Linked DNA regions of Homo sapiens. The protein of the gene in region 1 purifies or fractionates together with the protein of each later gene. This does not show direct contact. Each region holds a gene or a part of one and is shown in the gene's direction. Other genes may lie near its edges.

What was found.
Region 2: the proteins of MT1F (region 1) and RPRD1A purify together in Homo sapiens (affinity purification with mass spectrometry; one large-scale study listed by BioGRID and IntAct). This does not show direct contact.

What each region holds. Positions count from the first base shown.
Region 1 is NC_000016.10:56,656,732-56,659,803, forward strand, and holds MT1F (metallothionein-1F), read left to right. Parts: upstream 1-1,227; 5' UTR 1,228-1,327; coding exon 1,328-1,355; intron 1,356-1,943; coding exon 1,944-2,009; coding exon of another isoform or gene 2,010-2,050; exon of another isoform or gene 2,051-2,051; intron 2,052-2,341; coding exon 2,342-2,433; 3' UTR 2,434-2,572; downstream 2,573-3,072. UniProt on the Homo sapiens protein: Metallothioneins have a high content of cysteine residues that bind various heavy metals; these proteins are transcriptionally regulated by both heavy metals and glucocorticoids.
Region 2 is NC_000018.10:35,989,107-35,992,247, reverse strand, and holds the end of RPRD1A (regulation of nuclear pre-mRNA domain-containing protein 1A), read left to right. Parts: 3' UTR 1-2,424; downstream 2,425-3,141. UniProt on the Homo sapiens protein: Interacts with phosphorylated C-terminal heptapeptide repeat domain (CTD) of the largest RNA polymerase II subunit POLR2A, and participates in dephosphorylation of the CTD by RPAP2.

The sequences.
Region 1 (3,072 bases):
ACAGGCGTGAGCCACGGTGCCCGGCCTGACTTGTTATTATTTAAAAGATTTCAAGCCATAGGGAAGTCCAGCAATAGAGAAGACATAGCTGGGCCTTATTTCAGAGAATTTCTCCTGAGAGGCTGGCTGGATTCAAATCAGTGCACAGCTTTTTAGCTCTGTGACGATGAGCACGTTGCTTGAACTTTCTTTGTTGTAGGTGTCCATTTATTAATATGGGTTCATGCCTAGTATTTCCCTTTACAATTGTTGTAAAGGTTCAAACAATGAAAATGATTAAAAGGAGACTGGCACAGACTCAACCTTAAGCAATTGCTAGTAATATTGAAGGGAATTAACCACTTGTCTTTCTTACTTCTTATGTTAAGTTTTTCTTTTTCTTTTTCTTTTCTTTCTTTTCTTTTCTTTTTTTTTTTTTTTTTTTTTTTTTTTTTTTTTTGAGAGGGAGTTTCACTCTTGTTGCCCAGGATGGAGTGCAAAAATGGTGCGATCTCGGCTCACCGCAAACTCCGCCTTCAGTGATCTCGCTTCTGGGGGCATCCCATATTTTCCAAACTGCCATCCTATAGTGGGGTGCCCGTCGAGGCTGTGGGGAGACCCCGGAGAGATTTATGCAAAGGAGGACCCAGACAAATGTGCCCATTCAGCCTCTCAAGAGTGAAGAATGGAAGAGAGGGGGGCAGAGCCCTGTGTCTTCCGTGTTGCTGTGCGCAGGAGAAACATGGCCAAAGGACTGAGGTGGGGTGACAGGGACAGGCAATGCTAGAGATCCGAAGGTCACATCCTCGGCCTGTCCTTTGCACACTACTCCCTTGCTAGGCTCCCTGCTCCCGCCAATCTAGACAGTGGCGCAAGAGACTGGGGTTGCACTGGGACTCCAGGAAAGGCTTAGCTGTTGACGAAGGACCGGGGCGGGGCCGGGGGGCGGGGCGAAGGCCAGGATCTCCAGGTACCCGGAACCCCAAGGGGCGGGTGTAGCAGGCAATCTTGGCGAAACTGGGAAGGGCGGGCAGGAGGGCAGGGAAGCCGCTCACCCAGGCACAAAGCGCCTCCCGCTTGAGCGGACTCCAAAGGGACGGTCCGCGGTGTGCAGCGAGCTGCGCTCAGGGGACCTTGCGCCCGGCCCTTCTGCTGCACACAGCCCACCCAGGACCTCCCGCAGCGCTGACAGGCGGGGCGGGTGCAAAGACGGGGCGGGGTCTCTGCGCCCGGCCCCCTCCCCTGACTATCAAAGCAGCGGCCGGCTGTTGGGGTCCACCACGCCTTCCACCTGCCCCACTGCTTCTTCGCTTCTCTCTTGGAAAGTCCAGTCTCTCCTCGGCTTGCAATGGACCCCAACTGCTCCTGCGCCGCTGGTAAGGAACGCCGGGTTCCGTGCCTGGGGATGCTCGATTCCCAGACACCATAGAGAGTGTTCCTGGGTTTGAGAAGGTCGTATTTTGAGATCTCAACTGTAGGGGACTCCTTGACTTAGTCCAGTGCTTTCCTCTTGGCCAAGATCCTGAGAGCATTTCCTTCCTCTCTGTGCCTCTGTGTCAGCGTTGAGGGTACTGAGGCTCAAGGCTGTCCTGCTCCACGTCATGCGGTTTGTCCCAGGGCTGTTGGCTGAGCCCCAGTGCTCTGACCAGGCTTTGAGCAGCAGGATTAGATAGGAGGCAGGGGACATTGCCTCTTCGGGGTTCAGGACAGAAAGTCGAAGTCGCCGTCTTCCCAGGCTGTGCCTGGAGCCTGGGACTTTCCTTTGGAGTGCAAACAGGAGGCTGCTTGGCCTTCCCAGCATGAAGGGAGAGGACATGGGGCTTCTCTTCCTCTGCTCTGAGTGGGAAAGGAGCTCTGAGGGCTGGCCCCGCACAGAGGAGGGGGCAATGGAGACTCATTAACTCACTGCTGTACCTCCTGCAGGTCACTCGCCGCTCACTGGCTTTTTTTTCTCTTTCTCGCAGGTGTCTCCTGCACCTGCGCTGGTTCCTGCAAGTGCAAAGAGTGCAAATGCACCTCCTGCAAGAAGAGTGAGTGTGAGGCCATCTCCATGGTCTGGGGCTGTGGCTAAGGTTGGGATGGAACCCAAGGCTGGCCCTGAGTGCATGCTTCTGGGGAACTGGCCTTCCTTTGTCCCCGTAGGTTGTCACTGCCTTTCTAGTCTTCTGCCCTGTGCAGGGCGCCTGGGCAGCTTTCTCATAGGAAGACCCACCCCAGATATTTCCCAGTTGTCTCCTGACAAAGCCATACCCTCCTGAACTGAGGGTCCTTTGTGGCTGGAGGCTCTGTTGGGGGCCTCTGTTGGGGAGGGAGGTCCCTGGGCAAGTTGGCTGTGACCTCTCATGCTCCTCTTCTTCCCCAGGCTGCTGCTCCTGCTGCCCCGTGGGCTGTAGCAAGTGTGCCCAGGGCTGTGTTTGCAAAGGGGCGTCAGAGAAGTGCAGCTGCTGCGACTGATGCCAGGACAACCTTTCTCCCAGATGTAAACAGAGAGACATGTACAAACCTGGATTTTTTTTTTATACCACCTTGACCCATTTGCTACATTCCTTTTCCTGTGAAATATGTGAGTGATAATTAAACACTTTAGACCTGATTCTGACTTCAGTTTCCCTTATGTGCTTCAGAAATCAGAGACTGGGGTGGGGGATCGAACTAGGGTTGCAGACTCCTGGGCTCTAAATGGAAATCTGAGTCCCTAACAATCAGAGTGCATTAAGGCAAGCCAGGCTGCCTCACTGTGCTTCCTCTTCTGTAGAATGGAATAACACTTCATCAGGTCATTGGTGGGGATCCAGAATACAGGATCACCTTCATTCTCAAATGTGGCACAGAAACTTCTCAATGCCTCCTGTTCCTTCTCTGATTTCTCTGCCCAACTTCAATTCCTCTTTGGATTTCAGGTTAGAAAGTGACTACACGGAATGGAATCAAACCCCTTAGTTATTTGAATTCTACACCGGGCTTCTCAAACTCCAGGGTGAAGGAGGGGTTTTTAATTCCTATCCATTCCACATCTAAACCTTGGTAAATGAAATAATACTAATGATGGAAGTCATGAAATTAAATTCAATATACAAAATCTGGCCGAGCAGG
Region 2 (3,141 bases), on another chromosome or scaffold:
AATACTTTTAGCTCTAATAGCTCAAGAACACAATATTCGTTAATGTTCAGTAAAGTAGCCTGAGACATTTTCAATGTTTCCTTAAGGTTTTTGAATGACTGTATATTTGGCAGTTAAGCAGTGCCACACTACAGGGTAGATATGGTAAATTTTATATTTGTATATTTACAGTTACAAAACAAATGTACTTTTACCTTTTATTTCTGACCCTGTGTGTTAGAGCAGTTGCATGCTCTCCTGCTGTTAAAAACACATTGTTAAGCTGTGGATTTGTACTCAATAATGACTTAGGATAAACATTTATTTTCATTCATTGCTTTACATACTAGACATTTTTCTTCTCTTTGTAAGTAGATTCAAATTAGATAGTCAATAAAACATCTTGAAAATCCCACAAGCCAATTATGTCTCTCTAGTCTGAATGGCTTCATTGTTTCTTTCTCAGTATTAGAAATTATAGTTACAATGAATTGCATATGAAGAAGGCAGACATTTATTTTTAATAGCCAAGTAGTTCTGCAAATAGTTCTTTTAACAATTTGACCTCTCTCCAAAACAGAGACACATATAAGTAGTGCTCATCCATGCACTACTAATAATACATGGCTTATTCCAAAGTTTTTAGTCAACTTTTGGGACTTGGGGTGCATTTTCTCACAGAAAGAATAGTAGTTAGGTTCCCTAACACTACCGCTGATAGCTCACCTGGGAACTGAATCCACCTAACCATGAATGTCCTTCACTTGTAACGTGGTTCACAGGTTACTAATCATAGATCCTGACCAGCATTTGTAACACTGCTCTAACTAGGACACAGCATGCAGCAGCCACACTCACACCCTGGGATGTCTGTGTACCTCTGTCCCTAGGTGTAGGAAATGGAAGAAAAAGATTCAGCCAAGTGGGGAGGTGACAGATGCACAATTATGAAACCTGGTTGTACATGTTATGAAAGTATACTAAGTAAGTTAGTTTTTATTATTAATGTGAAAGCAAAAACTTGTATGTTAACTTATTTTCAATATCTTGACCTTATTTATGATCTGCTAAAGTGGTGATTTATCCATTCAAAATATATATTTTTTTCCATTTAAAACTAATTTATAAACTATGTACTCCTGGGAAGATTTGAAATCTTTTAGAAGTTTGTTGAAATATTTTCACCATTTCAGACAGACTTCTGACTTAGATACTGATTTTAATGCCAGTATCTGCTCTAAATATTTATGATAAAAATGCATTATTTTTTTAAAGAGCTTGATGAGATTTGTGATAAGTGATAGTACTCAAAAACCTGAATCCCACCCCTCGACCAATCCTCCACAAACTTCAGTTGTTGGTTAACGTATTAACTGAACACAGACAATACAGTCTGATTTAGAAGTCATCTTTTCAGCCGTGTGATAATTAACATGGTAAGCCTTAGCAGCAAACATTCTTCCTAAAAGGAAGACTTCATTTTCTCAAGAAATGGGATTAGTTGGGGGTATTATAATACCAAATTGTAAATCATGAGCGTTTTCTCCACTGTGCACCTGAGGCAGATCATGCATCTTTGAGTGCAGTTTGGTCTGACCCCTCAAGAGAAAAGCATGGTGCCGTAGGGCTGCTATGGTTTGAATGGATGCCATCACTCTTTTCTCCACATACAGTGCAGAGAGCTGTCTGGAGTCACAATCTGAACAGATTCTCGGGCGCTCCTTCTCTCCTTCCATCACTACAGTAAGTAAAAGGACCATAGAGGGGAACCAGGAATCTGAGAATCAGCTGTGCTCAATAGCCAACCTCCCTGTCCAGATGCAGCTATTTTGGTATCTCCTATCACATGCACTCTGAATCAGGGTTTTTCTATAAGAAATCTTTCAGAATCAGCAAAAGTGGGGATGACCCAGGCATCTTGATTTGCAAAATCACAAAACTAAGTTGTCAGTTATCACTGTAGATGAGCAACTCATCTTTTTAAAGTATAGTTACTGAACTGATTCTGAGAAATCTTTAGAGAGAAAAAACTCAACAGTACAAATTAACTAATTGGGAAAGTTAGAATGTCCTTTCTGAATTTTTCATTAAAAAAATTACATTATCTGAAATAACATAAAGCTACTAAACTGCTTTGTATTCTATTAAGAAATAGCTCCTAAGGATGTAGTCTTGTTTCATAGTTGTTGCACTATATCAAAACTTAAAATGTAAGCCCAGTTCTTCTCTGTATAGAAAGGAAACATTGTGTTACTTAATGAATTATTTATACAGAGCATTTGTTGCCAACTGTTGTTCCAGCCATCCACACAGGAGTCTGTTCTGAGGTGGCAATAGCACATGGGAAGATGAACTTTCCCTGTTTGTTTACCCGTTCTTCTTTGGCTGTATCTGATGACAGTATAAGATGTTCTTAATAAAGTTTTATGTTCTTTTTGAAATGTGTAGGTTGTTTTGTGAATCTGATTCATTGGATATGGGGTGGGAAGGGGAAAGATTAATGGACTGGGAGGGAAGCAAAGTACTGGAAATAATTCTGATGTTATGGTAGAGAGACTGCTGAAGGAGGAGATTTACTTGGCCAGTAGTTCCCAAACTTGAGCGAGCATCAGAATTACCTAGAGCCAGTTTGTCCAACCTGTGAGCTGCACGTGACCCAGGACGGCTTTGAGTGTGGTGCAACACAAATTTGTAAACTAAAACATTATGAGATTTTTTTTTTAGCTCATTAGCTATCATTAGTGTATTTTATGTGCAGCCCAAGACAATTCTTCTTCAGGGTGGCCCAGGGAAGTCAGAAGATTGGACATCCCTGACCTAGAGGATTTATAAACTACAGATAGTTGGGCCCCACTCCCAGAGCTTCTGATTCAGTAGGTCTGGGGTAAGGCCTGATGGTTTACAGTTCAAACAACTTGATGCTGATGCCACTGGGGTTAGGGACCACATTCTGACAACCACTGCTCTAAACAAATTCCAGGTAATAAGATAATAAAGTATGGTTTTTATAATTATATAGCAAGTTCCTTATGGGAAAAGAACAAGATCACATATTCTTTTGTGGTCCACTGCTTAGTAGTGCTTTATTAAGTGCTTTTGAGTGAACAGATTCAATTGGTACTGTCAACCTCCTGGAGCCCATGCCCTTTTACCACTCCTTGA